Homo sapiens: one gene and its partners. The protein of the gene in region 1 interacts with the protein of each later gene in a biochemical or structural test. Each region holds a gene or a part of one and is shown on either strand. Other genes may lie near its edges. The genes, in order: PTPRB, MAGI3, NRCAM and CDH5.

What was found.
Region 2: the proteins of PTPRB (region 1) and MAGI3 form a complex in vitro, tested with the Homo sapiens proteins (one study listed by BioGRID).
Region 3: the proteins of PTPRB (region 1) and NRCAM form a complex in vitro, tested with the Homo sapiens proteins (one study listed by BioGRID).
Region 4: of the proteins of PTPRB (region 1) and CDH5, one has a biochemical effect on the other in vitro, tested with the Homo sapiens proteins (one study listed by BioGRID).

What each region holds. Positions count from the first base shown.
Region 1 is NC_000012.12:70,515,403-70,522,434, reverse strand, and holds the end of PTPRB (receptor-type tyrosine-protein phosphatase beta), read left to right. Parts: exon of another isoform or gene 1-923; coding exon 924-946; 3' UTR 947-6,565; downstream 6,566-7,032. UniProt on the Homo sapiens protein: Plays an important role in blood vessel remodeling and angiogenesis. Not necessary for the initial formation of blood vessels, but is essential for their maintenance and remodeling. Can induce dephosphorylation of TEK/TIE2, CDH5/VE-cadherin and KDR/VEGFR-2.
Region 2 is NC_000001.11:113,386,450-113,393,524, forward strand, and holds the start of MAGI3 (membrane-associated guanylate kinase, WW and PDZ domain-containing protein 3), read left to right. Parts: upstream 1-4,065; 5' UTR 4,066-4,584; coding exon 4,585-4,900; intron 4,901-7,075.
Region 3 is NC_000007.14:108,147,126-108,152,445, reverse strand, and holds the end of NRCAM (neuronal cell adhesion molecule isoform A precursor), read left to right. Parts: intron 1-1,692; coding exon of another isoform or gene 1,693-1,726; exon of another isoform or gene 1,727-1,739; coding exon of another isoform or gene 1,740-1,751; intron 1,752-2,298; coding exon 2,299-2,536; 3' UTR 2,537-4,797; downstream 4,798-5,320. UniProt on the Homo sapiens protein: Cell adhesion protein that is required for normal responses to cell-cell contacts in brain and in the peripheral nervous system. Plays a role in neurite outgrowth in response to contactin binding.
Region 4 is NC_000016.10:66,362,742-66,369,704, forward strand, and holds the start of CDH5 (cadherin-5 preproprotein), read left to right. Parts: upstream 1-3,949; 5' UTR 3,950-4,017; intron 4,018-5,901; exon of another isoform or gene 5,902-6,011; intron 6,012-6,963. UniProt on the Homo sapiens protein: Cadherins are calcium-dependent cell adhesion proteins. They preferentially interact with themselves in a homophilic manner in connecting cells; cadherins may thus contribute to the sorting of heterogeneous cell types.

The DNA of each region.
Region 1 (7,032 bases):
CTCACTGGTGGCTCTGGCCCAGAGTCTTTCAGGAGGTTGCAGTCAAGACTTAGACTGGGGCTGCCATTATCTGAAGGTTTGACTGGGGCTGGAGGACTCGCTTCATAATGGCTTGTTCACATGGCTGTGGGCAGATGCAGCCACAATTCCTTGCCATGTGGACTGGTATCTCTCTATAAATCAGATAATCTTTCTTTGACAAACATTATTTCATACCCTCTTATCTCCATTCTAAATGATCTTCAACAGGTAGTGTCTCCTAACCTTTTACTTAGTTCTCTCTACCACCCAGCCTAGCCAGTATGTTAATGAGTTAGCATCTGTAAAGCACAAATAAAGAGCTACTATTTAGAGGAGTCCTTTGTAAATCAGATAATTATTTTGTATTATGAATAATTACAAATTACACCCTAATTGATCTGTATAGTAAATTAAGGTTTTTGCATGGGAGATTCCTTAAGAGGCTTCAGTATGAGCAAGTTCTGAGGGATCTTGGAGGTTCCTTTGTCTTGTTTTGACTTAAGAATCTTTTTTTAGAGTAATCTTGAGCACTCCTGAAAGAAGCTAACTATGGTATAGAAAAGGATAACCACCACGTAGCTGAAGGCTAAGATTCAGGTCCGAACTCTCGAACTAACTAGCTGTAACAAGCTGTGTAACCCTGAGTAAGTTACTCTGCCTCTCTGGGCCTATGGCTTCATCCATAAAAACAGAGGCGATGGGCTAGAATCACTAGTCCCTTCCAAGTCTAATAATCTGTCTTTCTAAATGGAATTACCTGGTCCCAATAGGAATGGTCTCATCTTAAACTAGGTTGAGCTATATGTTTCTGCTGGTCTTTCACATTGGTAATTTTCATAAACAGCGTAAACAATTATGACACACCCTGCGGCAGTCTCTAATTACAGTGTTCTTCCTTTCAGATCCAGTCTATTCAAGGCATTGAGAATGTACCTGAAGAGCTCCTGGATAAAAATTATTCACTGTGTGATTTGTTTTTAAAAACTTGCTTCATGCCCTACAGAGGTGCCAGCTATTTCTGTTGATACTATGTATAATTTATTAATCTGGAGAATGTTTAAAATTTTATATAATTTAAAGGTAACAGATATTATTGTACATAGTTGTATTTTGTAGTTTCTTCTGTAAATATGTATTTTTCATAATGTTTAATATTAAGCTTTATATAATACTATTTTTCCACACTAAAGTGTTCATGACTTGTTCTACATAAAACTAATTCAACCTGTATGACAGGACTACTGGTAAAATGCATATGGAGGTGGTGGCAGAGACAATCCTTCAGGCCATGTTTTCTACCTGTTTTGATATTCACTGGACAGGAAAAAGGGCAGGGCTAGAGAGAGCAAATACTATGGCTAGATTTGCTGCATTGCTGTCCCATGAATCTCGAGAGCCAACAGACATGTCCTAACTTGCTATTAGGACAAATGTGACAGTCAAAAAAAGGATTAGAGGGAGGGAGAAAAAAGAATTAAGCAGTACCAAAGCTGAACTAGATGCTTGTGTCTGAACTAGTTGCTCTCTCTCTCCTTTCTCCTTCCAGGGATTCAAGCCAAAGTGGTCAGCTCAGGGATCATGTAACTTGCAGTGCAAGCCCAGGATGGTAGGATGCAGGGTTGAGGGTTCTGATAGAGAATGATTCCAAACAGAAGTGATGAATTCCTTTTGTTAATAAGATGCCAGCTATACCCAGACTGGAAACATAACATGCAAAGCACTATCTACAGTGATTAGAGATCCTTTCATTGCATTCATGGTGTGGAGTGTGAACATCCACACCCATACTGTAATGTATTTATACACACTAGTTTCTGTCTCATTTTCAGTGGTCTCCATTCCTAGAAAAGTCACAATTATCCATTCCTACTTGATTTCCCATTAAAAGAATATTATGGTAGCAGATTGTGCCCCTCATTAAAAGGCTTAATGCCAACATTTTCATAGAAATGACTACAAACATCATATATAGTAAATTTAAAAACAATAGCAAAAACAAAAACAGTGGTCTTCAGTAAAATTTTCAAAACTTCTTTTAGTAAATCAATGAAGTCAAAATGTCAAGTAATCACCCAAAGTTGCATTTAATAACAAAAGGCACTACATACTGTACCAAGTTTATCTTCAATATTTGTGCCTTACTTACTTTGACTATAACAAATTCCAATGAGTCAGAAAGTATTTCCTTCATCAAGGTCCAGTTCCGACAGCATTCCTGGGAAAAATTTGAAAGGAGTTTGTACGGAATCTTCATAGATACCTGAGAAGATGAGCTGGAGATGTTTGCCTTTTTCACACTACAAATTTTTCTGTAATAAACTTGGGAATTAGAGGTCAAGTTTGTTGATGGCATAGCTTCCTTTGCATAAAGAGTATATTTCTTTTCAAAGTATATATTTTTGTAACCTACCATAAAGTCCGTAAGTGAATACAACGAATGTAATTGACATAATAATTGAAAATCATTGACTATACCTAAAATAGTTCTTTATAATTAAATAACTCTACACCCAATCTGGAAATTTTTCCAAGGTTATTTGAAGTTTACAAAAATGTGAAGCATAATCATAAGCTTCAAAGATTCACAGTTTCATTGTGCTCAATGCTCTTGTGAAATGACAGTCTTAAGCTCTGATTCTGTATCAAGGAACTAAGTGAATCTTCTGGAAATGAAAAGGAACAACATATGTGTAAGTGCAGTAGATGTACCACCAGCGAGAAAATAGAGGTCAGAGATCTACAACGTGTGGCATCCATTAGAAATCACCTTTCCTACATTGAAAAGAAAAAAGAGAAAAAGCAGAATTTTACACTAATGTTGCTTGATGCAAAGCACATTAATGCTTGGAAGGATACATTCATTTTCGACTTTTCATTCACTCAGAAAACTTCTAGTAAGTATCTGCAACCTGCTAGGCACTGTTCCAGAATCTACACATTTCTACTCACATAAAGAGAATCCTCATAAAGTTAGGATTGTTGTTACTACCTTCAATTGAGCTTAAAAGACAGCCTCATCAAGGGAATGGGATAACTGAGCCAGTCTAGGACAGTGGTCACCTTCCACAGGCCACACACTGGAAAGTGCTAATGCTACTTTAATAGCAAACCTCTGGATCTAGGAGAGAGAGCAATTAATTGCACAAACCAGGAGTTAAAACCATAAAAAAAACCTATGCATCTGTAATAGTAAATAACACTCACGTACTCTGGCAACATCTAGGGTAGTATCAGAATTATGTAAATGGACATGACAGGGAAAAATCGTAGGTTTTTTTAGTCTAATCCAACCCAGGAAATGTTTATTCCTACCCTACACCTAATTTTAAACCTTCTTAGCAACAAATATTTCACTATTCGCTCCTACTCCTGGGAAGACTAAATATATAATTGACTTATTTATTAAATTTAGGAGAAAAAAAAAGTTTTCCTTGACATTCAGCTCTATTGGATTTATTTCCATTTAATTGCATCATGTGTTATGTCTTGGTAAACACTCCATTTCCTGTCTTGGTGGGCATCCTGTCTGTGTACCTGTGCAGTACACTTTAATCATCAAGACTTCAAAGTGCTTTTGAGCTATCAAATCTTGGGAGAGTCCCATCTAGCATCTTAATAATTATTTTTCCAAGTTCGTTATAATTAACTCCTTTAACCTCATCTCATTAAATCAATTTTGTATTGTCATTCTGTTGTTCTCTGGAAAGCAGCCAATTGTTCAGCTCTTGAATCAGAATTTTCAAAGACTCACCTCTCTTACCTGGGCTTGCACATATTTGTCCTAAGTAATTCTCTATCCCTTAAACCTCTGAGTCCCTCTGTTTTATTACTTGCCCCACTCCTCCTACTTGAATATGTTTGTTTTCCCAGTTGAATGTGATTTTTATCTACTGTTCATATTATCTTTTATACCCATGAGTATAATTTCATAGTCCTTTCAGGTTCCACATCATCAAAGAGATGACCATAATTTCACTTTTTTTTGAAATGAAGTCTTGCTCTGTTGCCCAGGCTGGAGTGCAGTGGCACAATCTCAGCTCACTACAACCTCCGCCTCCCAGGTTCAAGCGATTCTGCCTTAGCCTCCCAAGTAGCTGGAATTACAGGTGCCTGCCACCATGTCTGGCTAATTTTTGTGTTTTTAGTAGAGATGGGGTTTCACCATGTTGGCCAGGCTGGTCTTGAACTCGTGACCTTAGGTGATCCACCCACCTCAACCTCCCAAAGTGCTAGGATTACAAGAGTGAGCCACCGCACCTGGCCAATTCACTTTTAAATACTAAAAGGCACACAGCACACAGACATTTTCGGGGCAGTTTTCTTTGGGAGGGTCTTTGATAAATTTTGTAATCACCTCTCGGAAGAAAGCCCAAAATGACATGTGAAAATAATATTAAACCATTTACCAGATGTCCAGCAATATAAAAATAGACCTCACATGCTACCCTTCACATGCTGATTCTCTTGCCTTGCTGTTTAAGGATCCAGTTTCTTATGTTAAACATTTTCCTTACCTTTTGCAATAATATTATTGGCCATATACTAAATTCTCATTCACTTAGCTTTCTAAGAATTCTTTGAGGTTGGAATCCTGAAATCATAAAGCTACCAGATCTGCACAACAGCAGTGGTAGTATCTGAGCCCAAACTCTGAGACGCTCTAGAGTTTTAGTTTACAAACATGAGCCAGACCAAACCTGACCTGGTGAAAATCAATAGGTAATAAACTGCTTGTATATGATAGCAGTTCAAGGGCTTTCTGGGTTCCATTTCACTGAGGAAATGAAAATATAACTGATTAGCCAAGACAGAGTGGCAATAAGGAATAACTGATCCTCCTCCAAGTTGCAGTGAGCAAGCCCTCAAGCCTACCTCATTCCTGAAGAGTTGAAGGAGAAAATGCCGTGCTAATTTTCTGCCCTGCTATTTTTAACCTGAAATTTAGAATTACATCAGGTATTCAAAGAATGTTCCCTATCAAAGGAAAATCTGTAAACGATGACTGCAAAAAGCAAGTGAAATGATGCAAAGAGAAAATATTTGCAAAACAGAATCTAACCAGACATCATCATGAAGATAAAATGGCATCTCTTCTGTGTGGCCTGGGTGTGCTTGGACAATCCTGTCACACGTTTCTATTAGGACATGTTGCCCTTTTGAGGATTCACTCTATGTTGGCCAGATGGTTTAACTGATTAAACAATTGAATCAATTTATTTTGCTTTTTGAATTGACCAGATATTTAACTAAATGTACTGGGTTTGGCATTTTAGACACACTGCCTTAGATTCTTGTAGTGCATGATGACTTTGAAAATGTTTGGCCATTTTAGTTAAAATGCAGGGTAACATTTGATGCAGCCATGATAACAGGAAAAATCTGTTCTGTTCTAAAAATGTTTCTAGCAATAGAAGTATTTCTGGCTAAGAGAATACTCTTGACTTGTAGGGAGGCTCCCTCGGAATAAATGTATGCAACACAAATAAGGCATTTTATTTTTTAAAAGATTGTCTATATAAGATACACTTATTAAATAAAGAAATTGTTGGTGAATGCTCTGAAAATAGAGGCTTATGTAATGGAAATAAGAGATTAACAGGTTTACCAAAGATTATTTTTATAACCTCTATGCCAATTCACATGATCTTATATAAGACACCAAAATAAGTTATTCAAAACTGTGAATAATGTCAGACAAATGCAATGTGTCCCTTCTAGAACAGTCACAAAAAGAATTGGTTATAGCTATTTTAATAAATAATATCCTCACCCCAAGAACAAACGTTCAGTTATGCTGAGATGTTCTAATAGCTGTGTGCGTAGATAAGCACCTCCATCAAGAAAGGAACACATGAAATTGTGGCTTTAAGAGTTTGTGGCAGAGTTGGACAGCATTCCATCTGCAGGTTAGTAGGAAAGCCTGTACCAGCCTTTGTGGAATGTCCTAGTCTGCCACACTGACAAGAGGGTGCACCAGTGCTCTACTGGAAGAGTATTTCTGGTTTTCTATGCAGGACTATTGGGCTTATAAATTCCTCAAGAACAAGGACCAAGTCTTTAATCTCGTCTCGACTCCTACCTTGTGGAAATTAGTGCACAGCTCATAGACATTCTACACACACTTCTTGAAATTGCTCCTGGCCTGATATTTTGGATGTTAGGTAGTCAGTGTCCAATAATACTGTTGTCCGTGCAGGTTAATCTAGCCATTCCTTCATTTGTGTGAAGCATAAATAATGTAAGTAAATACAGCAACTGAACTTTTTATGTTCTATAATAGAGCACTTTTATGTTTTTAATATCATTTATTATTTCTCTGAAAATCCAGTTAAGATGGCAGATGATTCTATTTTTTCATATTATAGCATCTACCCACAATATTTCTAACTAACTGTATTTGAACAAAGAACTTCCTTAGTCTTTCAATTTAAATTATGTATTTGCTTAATACATTTTTATATTTGTAACTGTGGTAAAAAAAAAATCTATATAGCATCTTGCATACATTCTCACTAGTACAGGAATAAAACTGCAGTTTGTTGAAGGAGAGTGCTCTGTCTTCTATTCACCTGCTCCTCATTTATCAATTTTTGTCATCTGTCTGTTCAGGAGAAAGGCCAAAAGTGACTGCTTTAAAATGAGAAAAATCTTCCAGGACATTATCATGAAGAATATAGTTGTCTTAACCTTTAGTCCTGTAAGTACTGAGTTGGTTACCTACAGTATTGTGTACATAATAATAGACTCTCCAGCTGACCGTCTCCAACTAAATTCCTGTTTTCAGTTCTTTACTTCATTAATAACCAAAATGTCATCTGTTACCAACAGTGTTGGTGTACTCTCAGAGGTACTGCCCTGGCTAGATTTCCACTGAGCCCTTCAGAGACACTTCACACATTTGCGGACAGTGTGGCATTTGGTAAAGAGACGCCATGACTATTTCCAGAGTTATGAGTTTGCCCTTTTGCCTTTTTCATATTTTAGTGGAAAGATCACTGTCCTTCACAACTC
Region 2 (7,075 bases), on another chromosome or scaffold:
TTTTGTCCCTATGTTGTGCAGCCAAGAGGCAGGGCCCCCTTCAGAGTACCAGAGGTGATACTGGATAAGTAATAAGATATTTCATTACCCTTGGCAAAGATTCATTTAGTAAAGGAAATTTGGGAAACTGTGGCCAAGAAGCTAGAGGAGAAGTCTTGCTGGAGGCCTTTCGGGGAAAGGCTTCCTTGATCTACAAAAAGGAAATGAGGAAAGGAAATATCCTTTTCCCTCCTTTCAGTCTTTAGCCATTATTGTGTGTGGATGTGATACTTGGAGCCTCTGCAGCCATCTTGGGACTGAACTTGTAAAGTTTCCATAGTGAAACATATTGATATGTTTTGGATATTTGTCCCCTCCAAATCTCATGTTGAAATGTGATCCCCAGTGTCAGAGGTGGGGCCTGGTGGGAGGTGTTTTGATCATGGGGACAGGACGGATCCCTCATGAATGGCTTAGTGCCGTCTTCTTGGCGATGAGTGAGTTCACACCTGACCTGGTTGTTTAAAAGTGTGTGGCACCTCCACCCTCTCTTGTTCCCACTTTCACCATGTGATGTGCCTGCCACTGCTGCACCTTTCACCATGACTGAATCCTACCTGAGGCCTCACCAGGAAGCCAAGCAGATACCAGCGCCATGCTTGTACAGCCTGCAGAACTGTGAGTCAACTAAACCTCTTTTCTTTATAAATTACCCAGCCTCAGGTATTTCTTTATAATGACACAAAAATGGCCTAACACACATAGCTATCTCTAGCTCTATAGATTAGATAGATTAGATAGGGATAGCCCAAAGAAACCTTGGAGATCACCAAATTCAATTGCCTCATTTATTTTTATTATTTTTGTTCCATGTTGTTTGGTTTATTAATATTCCCCAATGGAAATCACAACTATTAAACCAACCATTATTTTTGGAAAGTCGTGATAAACATGAATACAATACGATTATTTAATTAGGTGTCATTTTAGAGATAGAAGCTTAAAATATGACCCCTTTATGTAATAATTGCCAAAATAATATCCTACCAGAATTAATTCAATAGCATGGGTAGCTTATTTCTAGAATATTTTAAAAACTGAACCAAAGCTTACTAAGATGGGTGAATTTAATACAATGTTTTTAGCTTTGTCAAAGATAGTACAATTTAGCACAAACTAAAATAAAAATTTACTGTTTGCTCTATGCTGCATCCTATGTTATCAAATAGCTTGACTCAAATTACTTGACTCAAATAGCTTCATACAGTTCTCACAACAACTCAGGTAAACACTGTCATCAAACCCATTTTGTGGATGAGGAAATTGAGGATAGGCAAGGTTAAATAGCTTGCTCAAGATCACAGAGCTAGCAGTAGAAAAGCTGGGATTTGCAGTAAGTAGAAAAGCTGGGATTTGCAGTCTGATTTGCTCAAGCTCTGAACCACTGCAGTTTTCTGCCCAAGAATGAATACAACTTATTCATGGTTGAGGCATGTGGCAAACACTGTTGGATGCCTACTTAGCAACTATTTCCCCTTTTCTGCTCTCAGTCAGAACACTCATTTTGTTTAGGGGTGACTTGTGATCAATTTAATGAACTGTGGCCAATCCTATCTCTTTTTGCCAGTGACTGGTCTGATGTGGCATATGACCATTTTCTGGACAATAAGGAAGATTCTAAAGTCTGGGAAATATTTTTCTCCTTCATAAAAATGGGGGACAGCACTTCCTTTTCTTCCGTTCCTGCTCTGTGCAGTGACCTCTGTGGATGTGATGTCTGGAGCTATGGCAGCCACATTGCAATTAAGAGGTGACAAACCTGGAGACAAAAGCTCACATGCATGTGATGGCAGAGAGCAAACACAAAAAAGAGCTTGGGTCCTTGATGACATGATTGTACTGCTCAACTAACCCTGAAACTATCTGCACTTGAAATTTATATTGAAGATATAGTAAATGACCTCATGCTTTAAGCTACTGCCAAATATTCTGTTCCTTGAGGCCAAAGGCATTCTAACAGATGCAATCTAGACACAGAAAGATGTTTTCCCAGAGTTCCTGCAAAAACAGATGATGTGTAGGTTATGGAGATTTTATCCAGGAATCCATTAGTATAGGTAGTAGTTTAGAAAAAAAATACTCCAAGCTTTGTCTCAGATATGGTTAAATCTGAGCCATCCACATGGTGTCTGTGCTGAATATTTTCCCCTCAGATGCACTGTTTCCTTTTCTGAAACTGACTGATATGAACTATATCAAAAGCCTCCCTTGCCCTCTGGCGTCTGGTTGGACTTGGCCATTGACAAGCACCAGCAGGAGACTGGAGGAGGGTGGTGAGTTAGATATAAATCCCCCAGGTCCTTTGCTGGGTGTTTACTTAGGCTGACTGCATCCGTTGACTGAAGGTCACAGACTCCTGTCAGGTGGCCCTGTGTGTCTGGATTTTTCGGTAACTGTTCTTTCCCGATTGGACAGATCTAGGAGCTGTAGCCTCAGGGTTCCAGCTTCTCTTGTGGTTTCCCACACCCTGCCCACATCTTTGCAAAATGCCATTTGTTTCCTGCCAGGACCCTGACTGATACAATGGTGTCAACGAAATCACTGCAGCTATTGAAGCTTGGTCCAGTCTATCTGAGGTGTGGAGTTTTATAAGGGCTTTCACCTACTATTAAAGGGAGACAGGAGACTACACAAATAAATGTCATGCTGCAAAAGTGAAACAAAGATCATAGCTCAGAGAAAACACTTTCCACTTGAGGGCAAGAAATCAGAGAAAGCTACCTGGAAGAGCCGGCATTTGGGATGAGGACGGATAGGAGTTTTAAAAGAGATGAGATGAAGGGCATTCCAAAGACAGGGAAGAGTGTAAGTCAAGCCGGGGAAGAGAGAAAGCTCAAGTGAAATTTCTGAAAAATTAGAGCTGGAAGGGATCTACGATATCTTTTATTTAATGTTCGTTCTCCCTTCACCTCCTTTAACTGAGATTTGGCCAAGGTCAAACAGCAAGTAAGTAGCATGTCAGGACTCCAACCAGATCTGCTGGCTACCAGGTTAGTTCTTAATAATCCACCTTCTACCTCCACCCCACTCCCTCACCTCAGGCAGTCTGCTTACTTCTCAGTCTCTCCCACTAGACTGTAACCTCCTCAATAGCGGGGCTTCTGTTTTCTTCACCCTTGAATCCCAGTACCTAGCACAATATCTAACACAAAATCGTCATCGTCATCAGCAGCAGCAGCAGCAGCTACCAAACTTTAAGAGGCAACCACCCACTGTCAGGCACTATGCAGTTATTTTGTACATCTTCTGTAATCTTCACTTTTCACTGAGGACGCTGCGGCTCAGAGAGGTTGTCTAATTTGTCTTAGGTCATACAGCAGTGCCGGACTCTATTTTATAATATCTTTCATCAACCGGACTCCGAAGCCCTGCCTCAATGGGCGTTCAGTAACATCTGTTGAATGAACGAATGAACAAGCAATATCCACTCAATGCAAACTATCGGCTGTAACAGGCCACCCTAAAGGCCCCGGAACCTCGGCCGGCTCAGGACTCCGCACGTTGTCTTCCAATCTAAGCACACCGGCCCCTCTCTGCGCCCCGCACAGGCTCAGAGGCTCCGCCCGCGTCTCCGCCTAACTCGCCGGCCACGCCCCCACTTCGGGGAGCTCGGTCCCTCTCGGATTCGAGTTTTCCTCGGCTCCAGCCGCCGCGCAGAGGGCCTCTCCCGGCCCTGCGACCTACAGCCCCTTCCACTCCCCTGCCCCTCCTCTGCGCCCTCCCTCACTCTCCAAACTTCTTTTTTCCACCCTCTCTAAACTTCAGTCATTCTAGTGCCCGCCTCCTCCACTCGCACCGACCAACCAGTGGTCCCCATTCTCGTTGGCGGTCCGCCTCCTGCCCGCCGGGGGCCAATCCCTGGCGCGAGAGTCCAGGGCCGGGGCTCGTTCCCAAGCGCCCAGCCTGTGACGGCAGCGCGCCGGGCGCCGCGCGGCGGGAGGGGGCGGGGCTCTGGATGAGGGATGGGCGAGGGCCGGGGGAAGGGAAAAGGGAGGAGGAGGAGGTTGCGGCTGGTTTGAAAGCGGCAGTTTCCTGGCAGCTTGGGCAGGCGTTGGTCTCCGCGCTACAGCTCCGCAGCGGCCACGATCGATCCCGCGACGGGTCTACGCGCGCTTCTGCGCGCCCCCCACGGATTTTTCCCGTTCCCGGCTCTTCCCCCTTCACCTCCCCGCCCCCCCGCCTCAGCCTTTCCCGCCGCTCGGGCGCTGAGCCCAGGGACCAGCCGGCGGCAGTGACCCCGCCCGAAGCCCCTTCTGGAACCTCCTGGGGACAATTCCCTTTTCCTTTCTTCAGCCTAACCCGCGGTGGCCCTCGCGGAGTCCGGTCAGCCCCGGGGAGCGCAGCCGGGAGGGGCGTCCAAGGGGCGTCTCGCGTCTGGGAACGGCCGGGCCCCCAGCGGGCTGTGGTCGCGGGGTGGGGGCCGGAGCGGCGAGGCCCCCCTTACCGGGCTGCGCGGGCCGCCCAGGGCCCCCGGGCTGAGACGGGGCCGGAGCGGCGCCCCGGCCGCCCGCGCGGGGTCTCCCCCATGGTGCAGCGGGGTTCGGGATGTCGAAGACGCTGAAGAAGAAGAAGCACTGGCTCAGCAAGGTGCAGGAGTGCGCCGTGTCCTGGGCCGGGCCCCCGGGCGACTTCGGCGCGGAGATCCGCGGTGGCGCGGAGCGTGGCGAGTTCCCCTACCTGGGGCGGCTCCGCGAGGAGCCCGGCGGGGGCACCTGCTGCGTCGTCTCGGGCAAGGCGCCCAGCCCAGGCGATGTGCTGCTGGAGGTAAACGGGACGCCTGTCAGCGGGCTCACCAACCGGGACACCCTGGCTGTCATCCGCCACTTCCGCGAGCCCATCCGTCTCAAGACTGTGAAACCAGGTACGCCGGCCCTGCGTATCTGTCTCGGGGTGTTGGGGAGAGGGGCTTCAGGGTGGGCGTCCTGGGAGCGGCGGCACCTCCCCACCGCGTATTGTCCCGGGTAATCTTAGACCTCTAGGGTGTGCCAGACTCCTTGACGAGGGGGAGGGGTGGCGTTGGTGAGTCCCATTTTGCCGAAGGGAAAACTGAGCTCTGGCTTGGCGCGGTTGCTCTGCTAGCTGTGCTAGCTGTCACAGAATTGCGACTAGAAGCTGGGTTTCCTACATTTGTAGCTCCATCTCCCCCCGCAGACAAGAGTTTTTGACTAGAGAAGGCCAGCCTTTTCCTGTGTTGTGCAAAAAGGCCCTTAGGATTGTAACATTTTCTTTGGAACGATCTTACGCATCTTCTAACAGGGAAAAAGGGACTTTACTATAGAGGCACTTGGTGCCAAGGTTACCACCTGGTGTACCTGGAAGGGCTTAGCTGCTTCAGTGTTTCTTGCACTCTAGCAGACATCTCAGAGCTGACAGCCTAACTCTGTCAGTCCAGGTGGTTCAGGTGTCTGAGTACCGATGACGGTACAATATGTGATATGTGGCAGACTGGTGTGTTCTTGCAGGGAGCTGTTGAATAGAGTCTGGGTTTTGCAGGAAGACCTAGGTGCCTAGCGGAGTGAAAGCTTCTGTAACGCTTTTGATTTTACAGAATTTTGTTGAAGTGGTAGGTTAAAGGAGCCTCTGTTGCCCTGGTATCTTTTATGCTAGTAAAAATTGCTGCAAAGCACGTTATGTTTATGGCATACTCGTCAGTTTCAAAGCATTGATCAGAGACAGCATACAGTGAGATCTGATAGTATGTAGTAGTTCTTATGAATTTGTTATAGACAGCATTGTTGGTTTTGTTTCAGCATAGATAGAATGTGGTTCTGTCGTCTTAGATGTTTGTGGGAGAGAGAATTGTGATTGTAACATTATTAGAAACCAAACTGTTTTTCCTTAATGTGCTCTGCTGAGTATACGGTGCATCAAAATATAATGGGCTGGTTAATTGTTACCTGGGCTAGGTAGCAGTCCATCCCTTGATGGCAAAATGCTAGAAAATTCTGGATAAAAATTTAATATGTTATCTCCTTCTCATTTCTTTCTCAGCAGCTCGCTTTGGAAATATTAATATATCTTTAATAGTCCTTGAGCTTAATGGGGCTTGATGGTTTGTGGTGCAGTTTACATATGTCTGTGTATTGTGGATATGTATACACACAGACTCACATGCTCCTAAGGTCATAATTAAGATTTTCTTTCTATAGCGTATTCCATCGTATTCATTTTAAGTGTATGGGTTTATGTGGTGAGGTTTTCTTTTTATTGTTGTTAATTTTTTAAAACTTTGGCAGACTTTAAACAGCTTTTTCTGTATAGTTTTGAGAATTTGTAAATTTTTTTCTTAACTCTAACTTTTACAGCCATGTGTGAAAGGCAGAGGAAAGACTTTTGGGGCTGTAATTCAGCTAGTCAGGCACTGTCTGTAATATGCAAAAGGCTATATAGACAGCATTTACTAGTCTAGCTGCCAAATCTTAGTTCAAATCCCATGAGTTAGTGAATAGTGAGAACATCTGCATCATTTCTTTGTGTTTTGTTTTGATTCGTTAGGGCATAGATGAGAATATAACTTATTTTTAGAAATTTTAAAGTTGATATATTGACATGGAAGCTGGTGTATTCTAAATTATTGTGATCTTTTTTAGAAGACTGAAGAGATGGCTATTTCATAACATTAGTCTAATCTACCTGTTATACATTTTTCTCAACCTCTATATTATATTTAACAATAATTCAAGATTTAGAGCATTAGTAATATTAACTGTGTTGAATAAACATCCTATGCCCCCGTATGTAGTTGACATTATTAGAGTAATACAGTTTTGCCCTCTTGACAGCCACAGACACTGTTCTATTTTAAAGATTTAGCCAAAATAAAGGGAATAACGTATTAATGGCCACAGAACATTTTGTAGTCATTAGTAATAAAGTTCTGAATACTACACTTGTTTTTTGAAGAGACACTTTGTGTCAGTAATTTCTCAAGATACCATTATGTCTGTGTTATTTGAGATTAATATTGTTTCTAAGCAGGTTGTAATTTAAAATTTTTAATCTCTTTTAAAAATAGTATTCTTAGCTTCTTAATAGC
Region 3 (5,320 bases), on another chromosome or scaffold:
CCTACTTTTCTCTCTCTCTCTCTCCCTCCCCCCAGCCACACCAAGCTCCTTAGTGTTCCTAGAACCTGCCAGGCTTCCCCTCACCCCGAGACATTTATACTGCTTGTTACTCCTGCAGGAACTGCTCTCCCTCCAACTATTCACCTTGCTAACTCAACTCTTTTAAAGTTGTTGACCAGATATTACTGCTTGATGAGGTCTTCCTGGACATCTTATTAAATGCCAGCTCTCCATCCCTTCTCCAACACCTTCTGCAGTCTTTACTCAGCTCTATACTTTGCATAGTGCTAATCCTCTTCTGACATAATATATATGTAATTTTTTTTATTATGTTGATTGTTAATTGTATTTTCTTCCACTAGAAATAAAGCCAGTGAGGTGAGGGTTTTAGTCTGTTTTGTTTGCTGCTATATTCCCAGTGCCGAGAACAATCTATCTTAGAGTAGTCACTCAATAAACATTTATTGGATGAAGGCATGGGTGGATAGATGGCTAGACCAAAGAAATGCCACAGATGACAAATTTCCAGCAGTGTATTCCTTGGGACACTAGTTCTACAGAGCAGAATAAGACTAGTCATTGGAATCCAGGTGACAAATTCTGCCTGTTATTGAACTCTTCAGCTGAATTAACTGTCACACTGAAACATGAACTATATTTCACAAGAAGGATTTAATAATTAAACCCCAGAGATGTTGTGTAGGCTATTTTCATAACAGGTTAGACACTCAATGCTATGTCCTCTGAAATGCTCACAAACACAGACCACCCCAAGATGATACCTCTCCAGTTGTTTATTAGCAGTGGTGAAAATATAGTTTATTCAGTTTGCAATAAGAAATTGTGTATTACTGAAACAGGTTGTTTTCAGTGGCATATGCCAGTGTCATATTATGCTAGCATTATTTCCCAGTCTTCAGATTTTCTTCTTGGAGAAAAATTGAAATCCCTAGTAAAAGTTATTGTCAAAAGAGCCAGGATACTTGTGCATCTTGAAATGTTTGTATCTTGGCTTGAAAAAAAAAGTCACTGTCTGAAACAGAGGGAGCAGTAAAGTCTTAGCAGAAATTGCTAGATTAAATACTGCAGCCAGTGATACCTTTTGTATGTTAAGGCTTTTTCATTTTTACATTAGTAAAAATGTATATGTTTCCTATTTTGCCTTGCATTTTTGTTCTTTGAAAGAAAACAAAATGTTAGATCCTGTCATTGCCTTTTTCTATTTTTTTCCCAAATGTTACCTATTAAAAAATAGGTCAATATGCATAACTAGGTATTTGACCGTATGGGTGAACATTCAAAAACATAATGATTACTCTTTGTCTTCCAGAAATTGTGCTTACGGGTTCAACAGAGAAATAAGCAAAAATTGTAATAATGGAATCTTGTAAAGTCGTATTAAAGTACACTCCTCAGATTCCCATCCAGTATAGTCAGGCTGCATAACACACAAGGAAGAAGGGAGCTGGGGGGTTAACATGAGTGTAGGAAGCATTTGCTATTACATGTTTGGAGTCATTCACATTCTTTAGAATATATTGGCATGCCATTCATAGTACAAATGTAGAGCTTTTAAGTTAAAGTGCGTCTCTTTCCAGATTAATAAATCTTTACTCATTAACTAAAATTTTTACCAAAAAAACAAAAAAATACTGTGTACTATCAGTATAAGGATTTTGCTTTTCTTCTTAGGCTGTTTTCATTTGTTTCTTCTGCATCCTTTTAATGGAATTTTGTAGGTCTCTTGAAAGGTAAGGTTGAAGTTTACAGTCTGGCCTGCATTGATAACAAAATTATTTGAAATGCAGGATTTTGCTTCTCCTTCTGGCTCAGAAAAAAAAAATCCACATTTCACACTTAACCAAAATCATGCTCCATTCACAACCAAGGAATCAGAGATATTATGCAGTTTAACATACTAACTTCTTTACTTGCCATAAGCTTTTGCCTTTTTGAATTCAAAATAGTGATGATTTTTCTACTTTTCTGAATTCTTTCTTATTTAATGCTTGTGATTATTTCTGGATTGCTTTCAACTCAGGAATCAGAATTTGTCATTGAAATTAACAAACACTATTGGGAGCCATCCACTCTACTGAAGACTTCATGATTCAACCATTTCTGCTCCTGATTTCCATTCCAACTCATCCTCGTCATTGGAGTCAACCTGAAAATTAGATTTGGCCAGAGAAGCCCAGGACTCCAAATGCTTTCTCATAATTTGCATGCATGGTCTTTAAAAACAGAAAATGTTACCTAAATGCCAATCTTGACAAAAATGTTTTCTCTTTCTTCCAGTGATGCAGAAGACCACAAGCCTTTGAAAAAAGGAAGTCGAACTCCTTCAGACAGGACTGTGAAAAAAGAAGATAGTGACGACAGCCTAGTTGACTATGGAGAAGGGGTTAATGGCCAGTTCAATGAGGATGGCTCCTTTATTGGACAATACAGTGGTAAGAAAGAGAAAGAGCCGGCTGAAGGAAACGAAAGCTCAGAGGCACCTTCTCCTGTCAACGCCATGAATTCCTTTGTTTAATTTTTAAGCTCTTTGCCAATATTCCATTTCTCTAGAATGTTTATCCTAAGCACTTGTTTGTCAGCCCTCTCATACTATGAACATATGGGTAGAGAGTATATTTTCTGCTGTATGTTAGTATTATGAGAATAGTTACAGCAAAAACATAACTCAGTCAAATGATATGTTAATATGAACTGGAATGCAAAGTGCATACTTTTTCATTCAAAATGGGTATTCTTGATTTCCTCAGAACTGATAAAAAATAATGCAACATCACCAACAGATCCTGTTATTTCCTCTGCAGGATACAGTTCAATATGATGCATGAAAAATGCTCCACATTTAAAGGACATACCCGTGTATGTTATGAAAACATGGTTTGATACTTTGTTTATACTACCCTCAGCTGAACCCCTATATATGAATTCCGTTTTCATTGTCAAGAATGTTACTGTAGTATTCTCTAGAACTTCAATGTCTTTGTGGACATTGTTGTGAAATTGGTGACTATGTATAGCTGTCGTTAGTCTTTTTGGGAGACTGTTAGGAACAGTTTGTACAGTATATACTTGCTAAATGAGTTCATTATGACAGTCACATTGCTGATGCTTACTGAGAACTATTACCTACTCTTGGCTCCTGTTACTCCGTAGGCTTCTTAATCTTCCAGGCATTACAGCAGCACAGTGTTCTACTTTTTACATCATTTCTATGTTCGGTTGTTTTTAGGCATAAACAATGTGTATTGCAGTGCATTTCGGCATTTGTGCCATACTGAAAGAATCAAAAACAAATCATCCAAATTAAATTTCAAACATTATTTCAGAGAACACAGGGCAAGACACATACAGTGCCTTCAGATATTAAGCATTCCACAACATCGTGCATTCTGTATCAGCTGGTCCAGTCCATTCTGGGTCCTAGATTACTGTCATTGTCTAAAAGTAACTTTTAAAAAGCAGAGTTCATGAAAACTGCAATGCTGGGAAAAGAAGGAAACATGAAAATAAAAATAAGACAGTTTATTAGAAATAGCATTTCCTCATAAGCATAAAAAGAAAATCTTTGTTGCCAACTGAAGCACATGATGATTTTGTGGTCCTTTATGGTTTCTATTACATTCAGTAAGAAAGATGTCAACATGCTAGAAAATTAATTTTAAAACTAAGTTATTCCAACACTAAAAGCATACAACAGCATGCCAACAGTAATATATTATTCTCCAAGACTTTACCTATGTAAGTGTTCAAAACTCTGCAGCATTAAACAACGTGTATGCAAATTGTTATGGATACATTTCAGAATCTAAGAAATCAGGCAAGTGCTTAAAAGGCCAACGGTCCAAGGGATTACATCTGCAGTTTAAAAAGTAAATATATATTCTATCGTATTCATAAACAATATCTATCAAATGGGTTACCTCCAAATATGAAAATCTATAACAACCTATGGTTGAAGGAATGCTCAGTTTCATTTGCCAATAAATTGGTTTCTCATAACTTGCATCAAGTTTAATTTTAAGTAAAGCTTTTTATATGTAGATATTTTGTTGAATTTGTAAATACACTTAAAATGTAGATGCTATATGCTTATAGGTGTTACATACAAATAAACATGCAATGTTTATGTTGTACTGTATAAGAGGTAAGCTAATTAATGCAGTGAATGGGATTGGAAAGCATCTACTTAAATATCTATTGGGTTCCCCCCTCCCCCCACCTTTTTTGCTGTGAAACTGAAATAGTGAACTTTTCTACGTATTGACAGCAGATTTTTCGATGAAATCTTCAGAGCTTTGCCTATGGGGCACAGTAGGCCTAGTAACCTGGCATGTTTGATATATGTAGGTAAAGCATAATTTAAAGTAATCCCAGGTAAAGATGGCCCTAAATACTTTCATGTCTCTATATTCATTTTTCACAGATCCACCTGTCTCTTGAAAATATAAAAAGACAAAACAGGTTTGCCTTGGCATCAGAGAGCACAAAGATTAAAAGTTACTTTAAATTTGCCAATATTTTGGGAGAACAATAAAACTACATTTTTTCCTCTTCCATACTGGTAGATGCGAAATTTATCTGTGCATGAAAGGGTCACTTCTGTAATAGTGCAACAGATTTGGTATTAAAAATTAAATGTGGTTTTAAAAGTTCCTCTCTCTTTTGTAATTTATGTTCCCAATTGAGTGTGAATGTCCAAGTAATGGTGTATGTAATGGTACAGGCAAATGTGACTGGATTTCCCTCAAAAAAGTAACTATTAAACAGTCTTGATCTCTTTGTGACTTTTAACTTTTTCAAACATATATTGCCTAATGTTTTAAAATGGTGAAAAATTTTATTTTTTACTTTCAAAAGGCTGTTCTATGCAGAGAAAATTAAAACAAAATATAAAACAGATCTAATAGGACATATCAAAAACATTTGAATGAAAAACAGGACTAGATATTCCCAGCCTTTTGAGAAAAGTTCAAGAAATCAGGTGGTGCCTCCTTTCCCAAAGCCTGGCTCCTGGTGTCTGCCTGGGCCCGGCGCTTCTCTTCTGCTTGCCTGGACTCTGCCCTCCCGAATCACAGGCGACTTAGATTTCTTAACTCTCCTGTCTGAAGAGGGACACTACAGGTATCGAATGTATGTCACCCTCTCCCTTCTCTCCACCCCCATGCTTCTAATCTTCTCAAACCCTCTGGCAAACAGCCAAGCCCTGGCGTGTTCCCATGTTCCACCACCTGCCCCTTATTCTCCAGCCCCCTAGTCCCAGCATCACACTGACAAGACCTCCTGCTGGCTCAGAGCTGCCCTC
Region 4 (6,963 bases), on another chromosome or scaffold:
TTGTAGAATCACAGCTGAGGATGAGACCCCTCCCTGCTCCTCCTTCCCGCTCTTCCTCCTTCTGAGCCCCTTCTGAGACTACCTCAGGTGAGCAGCCCTATTTTATGTTCCCTGGAGGTGTGTCCGCCCCTCAGCACAGCACAGCCAGCTGGGCAAAAGGGTTTTTCCTTTGCCCGTAACTGAGCAGATGGGCTCATCAAGCCCTCTGCCATCAGACCATCACCTGCCTTAGAACACAAAACACTCGACTCTCCCCCCAGTCTCTCTGACCCGGGGAGCAGCGGGCTGACTGCCGGTTCTAATGAGTGCACAGTTTCAAGTTCACATTTGGGGAGCACTCACCTATTACCAGGTGCTGGGGATAAGCACCCAAATAGGACACAATCCCGGTGGGAAAGGAGAGGAGGGTTGTGAATGAGGTCTGTATAAAGTGCCCTGGGAGCTCAGAAGAGGGAGTGGAGTGTAGAGACAATGAGATCTGGGTGGCTCTGCCAGGGCTCTGCGCACAGGCGAGGAAGGAGAGAGAAGGAAACACACAAGGTGGAACAGCATGGGCAAAGTCCTGAGGCGTGAGGCTGCAGGGCTTCACCACGACCGCCCCTGCCAAGCTGATGGCATCGTTTTCCTGCCCCATCCTTGGGTGTCTCACGCTGTGGGGAGGAAGGAAAAGGAAGTCTTATTTGGGGAACCCCTGCTGTGTCCCGACTCAATTACAGCAGGGCAGGAAAGCTCCCTGGGTAAGGAGCTGGGCTCTGGAAACAGAAGCGTGGCTCGGAATTTCCGCCCCACCACTGACAAACTCTGATCTCAGAAAGGCTTTCACTCCCAGCCTCTGTTTTCCCATCTGTAAAATGGGCCTAACAGTAGTACCACCCCCGCAGGGTTGTCCTGAGGTTTGAATGAGGAGTCCCAAGGAGAGCTTAGTGCATTAGCAGCAGACACAAAGGCTGTGGTCCTCAAATGTAACAACACAAACACGTTTCCTGGGGAGCTACAAACACATAAGTCCTGGGATTCTATCACCAGCCATTCTGACCCCATCAGCCTGGAGTGGGGCCCAAGAAATCTGCATATTCACTCCCCCTCTCCCAGGATGGATGGCTTGAAGACCACACTTTGAGAAACAGCCACTCGATAAGGCTTGCTGGTCCTGTCATTTATTTTCATTGTCTCATTTCATCTTCCAAACGGCCTGCAAAGTCTGAACAGATAACTCATTTCACAGGTGAGGAAAGAAGCTCAGAGAGGCAAGTCGGCTGCCCAGGTCATGCAGGCAGCAACGGGTCATGCTAGGATCCAAACCTGGGTCTGCAACCCCCACACCTGTACCTCCCCAAGCAGCGCTCCCTGTCGGGTCAGGCTTCCTCCTGGCAGAGGCCAGGTGGGCGTCCCCAGGCCTTGTCGTCCCACCCGCCATCCCACCCCCACTGCCTCCACTGTTGCTTCCTCCTCTGCTACTAATCTGGTCTCACAGACCATCCCATTTCCTGCTAGCCCACCAGCCGCCTTCCTTGCTCCCAATGACACTTCCTGGCCTTGTGCCCTCCTGTTACCTCCTTTGCCTCCAGAGAGGTTGGAGCAGAGGCTGGGCAGTGCCAGAAATCAGGCATGAAATCCTCAGGGGGACCAAGGAGGCACCAGCCTCCCTCCCACAGTCTCAGCTACCTCTGCTACGGTGACCCCCAGCCCCACCCCTGGGGCCCACAGCTCATGCCTGGCTCACCATTCCTTTGTTTATGGACCACAGGAACAGTCGTTTTCAGGGCAGAGTCAACTTCCTCATGGACTGGGAGTACAAAGGGAATTGGCAGATGGTGCCAGGACAGGCCCTGTCCCCATCTGCCACAGCCCCGAGTCTGAGACCCAGCAGGAAGCAATGCACAGGCCAGTGTATCCCCATGGGCACGTAGACCATGAGGACAGGCGGGGGTGAGGGGGATGTGGACTGGAACACAGGGGACAGAGCACTGTCCTGGCTCCTCTGCGGCCAACCCCCCCTCTGGGCAGGAGAAAGCAGAGTTAATCCCATTGGAGAAGGAAGCGCTGAGCTGTTGTTTGTTCATTCCACAATCGGCTGTTGAATGTGTTGGATCCCACTCAGAATTCCGCCCCAAGGACTGTTCTCCTTCCAGCAGGTCGCTCCTCAGTCTCCAGCATCATCTGTCTTCCCGTCTGCTGGATGCTCCCTGGGGACATGAGCGTGCTGCCATAGTTAAAAAAAAAAAAAAAAAAAAAAAAAAAAAACCCTCCCACTTCTCTGCTCCCATTCACTGTAAGACTTGGGGAAGAAGCTACAGTCACACGTGACTCCACATCCCCGTCCCCCTTTCTCCCCTTTCTCTAGCCCCTCCAATCTGTCTTGTCTACCTTTTCCTGTTTAACCTGTTCTGGTCACAGTCATTGATGACCTCATCTTCCAAATCCAAAGTTAAGTCTCAGCCCTCATGCTCCCCAGGCTGACCCACTGACTACTCCCCTGCCCTCCTCCTCTGCCCTCTCCTGGCATTCCTCCTTCATCATGGGACCCTCTTCTAATGGATCCCCAAATGTCAGAGGGTCCAAGTCCTCCCTCCCTCCAAGCTCATCCATGCCCATGGCCTCAGATGCCAGCCATAAGCTGTTGGGTTCCAAACCTCGACTCCAGGCTGGACTCACCCCTGTCTCCCCCACCAGCCTGACACCTCCACCTGGGTATCTAACGAGCATCTCAAACTCAACCTGCCTGAGACAGAGGAATCACTATCCCCTCCTCCTCCAAAAATATCCTTCCATCACACTCCCCATCTTGTGCTCTGATTTACTAAACGGCCCTGGGCCCTCTCTTTCTCAGGGTCTCTGCTTGCCCAGCTATATAATAAAACAAGTTTGGGACTTCCCAACCATTCACCCATGGAAAAACAGAAGCAACTCTTCAAAGGACAGATTCCCAGGATCTGCCCTGGGAGATTCCAAATCAGTTGATCTGGGGTGAGCCCAGTCCTCTGTAGTTTTTAGAAGCTCCTCCTATGTCTCTCCTGGTCAGCAGAATCTTGGCCCCTCCCTTCCCCCCAGCCTCTTGGTTCTTCTGGGCTCTGATCCAGCCTCAGCGTCACTGTCTTCCACGCCCCTCTTTGATTCTCGTTTATGTCAAAAGCCTTGTGAGGATGAGGCTGTGATTATCCCCATTTTACAGATGAGGAAACTGTGGCTCCAGGATGACACAACTGGCCAGAGGTCACATCAGAAGCAGAGCTGGGTCACTTGACTCCACCCAATATCCCTAAATGCAAACATCCCCTACAGACCGAGGCTGGCACCTTAGAGCTGGAGTCCATGCCCGCTCTGACCAGGAGAAGCCAACCTGGTCCTCCAGAGCCAAGAGCTTCTGTCCCTTTCCCATCTCCTGAAGCCTCCCTGTCACCTTTAAAGTCCATTCCCACAAAGACATCATGGGATCACCACAGAAAATCAAGCTCTGGGGCTAGGCTGACCCCAGCTAGATTTTTGGCTCTTTTATACCCCAGCTGGGTGGACAAGCACCTTAAACCCGCTGAGCCTCAGCTTCCCGGGCTATAAAATGGGGGTGATGACACCTGCCTGTAGCATTCCAAGGAGGGTTAAATGTGATGCTGCAGCCAAGGGTCCCCACAGCCAGGCTCTTTGCAGGTGCTGGGTTCAGAGTCCCAGAGCTGAGGCCGGGAGTAGGGGTTCAAGTGGGGTGCCCCAGGCAGGGTCCAGTGCCAGCCCTCTGTGGAGACAGCCATCCGGGGCCGAGGCAGCCGCCCACCGCAGGGCCTGCCTATCTGCAGCCAGCCCAGCCCTCACAAAGGAACAATAACAGGAAACCATCCCAGGGGGAAGTGGGCCAGGGCCAGCTGGAAAACCTGAAGGGGAGGCAGCCAGGCCTCCCTCGCCAGCGGGGTGTGGCTCCCCTCCAAAGACGGTCGGCTGACAGGCTCCACAGAGCTCCACTCACGCTCAGCCCTGGACGGACAGGCAGTCCAACGGAACAGAAACATCCCTCAGCCCACAGGCACGGTGAGTGGGGGCTCCCACACTCCCCTCCACCCCAAACCCGCCACCCTGCGCCCAAGATGGGAGGGTCCTCAGCTTCCCCATCTGTAGAATGGGCATCGTCCCACTCCCATGACAGAGAGGCTCCTCGAGGGCACGCTGGGCCTCCTCGTGGCTCAGAGCAGGGTCGGGGAAGGTGCACCCAGAGGTAGTGCCAAGGGCACAAATGGGCATCTCGGGGCTGAGGGGGGCAGGGCAAGGGCTTGGCTCTCCCAGAAGTGTATTCTCCAACTCAAAAAGGCCCACTGGCCTTCATCAGTGCCAGGCTCAGAGAGGGCAGTATTCTGCCCCAGTTGCCCAGCATGCCGGGGCAGAGGACTGGCACCCAGGCCTTGGCCTCCCCTCGGTGCCTTACCCTTACTGGAGAGGATTTACCAAGGCCTGACACCAGCCTCCTCAGCCCCCTACCCATACGCCACTAAAGCTCTATGCTGGGATCTGGGGAGGGGCCCTGAAAAGGAAGCTCCGAGCCTTGGCCCCTCTCGGTCAGCCAGTGCCCCCATTTCAGGATAGGCAAGCTGAGGCTTGGCTCTGGGCACTTGAGGTCTTGCCTTTCCCTCTGGGCCTTTCCCTGCCCAAACACCATCGGGGCCCACTATGTGTCAAGGGAGCTGTAGTCTGGACAGCGGTCCACCATTCCTCCCACCAGCACCCTTTCAAAGGCTAGAGCATAAGAGCCCCAAGGCCCCCACAGCCCAGGAAGTCCCCCAGAAGCAGGAGGTCTGGGCCAAGAGCCTGGCCTGGAGACAGCTGCCCTGGGTACAGATCCCAGCTCTCCCATTTGCTCTGGGGTGACCTTGGGAAAGTTACCCAGAGTTTCCAAACCACAGTGGGGAACAAGGGATGGTGTGGGGCTCATTATTTTACCATTAACAACTCCACAAGGTAGATACATTCTTTCTTTATATCTCAGTGAAAGCAACTGAGCTTTGGAAACATATGAGCTGGTGTGGGGATTTGAACCAGGATCTCGTACTCCAAAGCCCCAGCTCTCCCCAGGTCTCAAGTGTCTCATCTGTGAAATGGGGAAACAGTGTTTCCTCAGTCAATTGAGTGAAGTGAGCTACATCCCTGGTGCTGGGAATGGCACATAACATGAGATCTTTAAGGAATAGTGGCTGGATTTACCAGCTAGCACAGAGCCGATCCTGGTTGTGAATGTGATAAAGATTTTGGCCCTTGAGGTATGGTCAAACCCCATCACGGAGGGGTCCTCAGGTGCCCAGCAGGTACGAGGAAGGGGGTGCAAGTGAGAGGACATCGCGAGCACCTCTGGGCCTCTGCTCCATGTCAGGCTCCCTCCCCAGCGTGGACGTTTCTCATGTGTGATGGGCAGATAGGATTCTGACAAGAGAGGAAGGGCATTCCCAGGGAGGCAGCTTTGAGGAGTCGAGGGTGTACCTGGAAGGCTCTTTTGCCACAGGCCACTGGAGCCAGGGCCAGAAGCCCTGGTCCATCCTCAGGTGGTGGGAAGCCTGGGACTCTCCTCTGCCTGCCCTAGAGAGCAGCAGGTATCCACCAAGGGGCCCAAGAGCTGCTGAGCCCCTGAGCAGCCCTACCAATTTCAGCTTATGGTGGTGAGGGGTAGGGGAGGTGTATACTGGCCTGGAAGGGGTTAAGCTGCCCGCCTGCAGCCTCAGCCTGAGCTATTGTGTTGCCAAACAAGGGCCGGACATGAGGGCAGGAAGCCAGCAGGGGCCACACATTTTCTGCAAAGTTGGATGATTCACTGCTGACTTGGGGACACCCAGGGGACAGAGGGGACACCATCCCAGGAAGAATCTTAGGCTCATTTTGCCCACATGGACCCATGACTGTTCCCTGTATCCTCTCTCTGCACCCCCTCAGTCACACTGAAGCAACTATGAGAATTCCCATTTGACAGATGGGACCATCGAGGCTGAGGGAAGCTGTGCAGCCAGTCCAAGGTCACACAACCAACACAAGGTAGAAGCAGGGTGAGTGCGGTTCCTTCTGACCCACAGTCCATGCCACACTCCACAGTGAAGCTCAGAGAGGGGGAAAGCAGAGCAGTCCAGGCCACAGAGGCAGGCACAGGGACAAGCCAGGAGCCCAGTGATACCAGGGGAAGGAATGTTCTAGGAGGCAGGGCCTCAGGAGCTTCACCTCTGGCTGAGGAGATACTAAAAAGTCTGTCCTGATCCAGGTTCAAGCTGGTGTTAAGTGGGTAAATCATGGAGGGCTTGCTGGAGGAAGAGTGGGAATCCCAGATGCTAGGAGGCCTTGGGCAGCCCCTCTGCAGCCTGCACCTCAGTCTTCCCATCTCTTGAGAGTAGGGGATGGTCCCTAAACTAATTCAGGGATTTCCAGGTTGTCTGCCTTGGACCATAGCAAAACAGTCAGATCCTGGCAGGTCCAGATACTAGAAGGAGGAGGAAGTGGGACCCAGGGGCAGGCCGGGCTGGTGGTGAATGAGATTTCCTTCTGCAGAGGAACAGAAAGAGTAGGAGGTGGGCCCAGAGTAGAGCCAGGAAATGAGGTCAAGCGTAAGTTGGCCAGTCAAAGCCACACCCACCAGGCTGGAGAGGGCGGGTAGATAGGAGTCAAGACACCTGCACCCTTACTGAGCACCTACTGTGTGCCAGGCTTTGCACCCATGATCTCATTTAATCCTCCTGCCCAGGGAGGCAGCTATTGTTGCCTCCATTACAGATAAGGAAGCTGAGGCTCAGCAAGCAAGAGATGAACCCAAGGTCACACAGCTCCCGAGCAGCTGGGCAGGTTCAAATAGGCAGGTGCAAGGGCCTCATTCTGTTCCCCGCACTGCCCTGACAGTCCCAGACAAAGTCAGGAAGCCCAGAGGAGTCTGGAAGCCTCCTTAGCATGGGTGTTCTCTCCTTGAAGTTTGGAGCTGTCCCTTTAGAAGGCAAGGGGATAGACTAGATGACC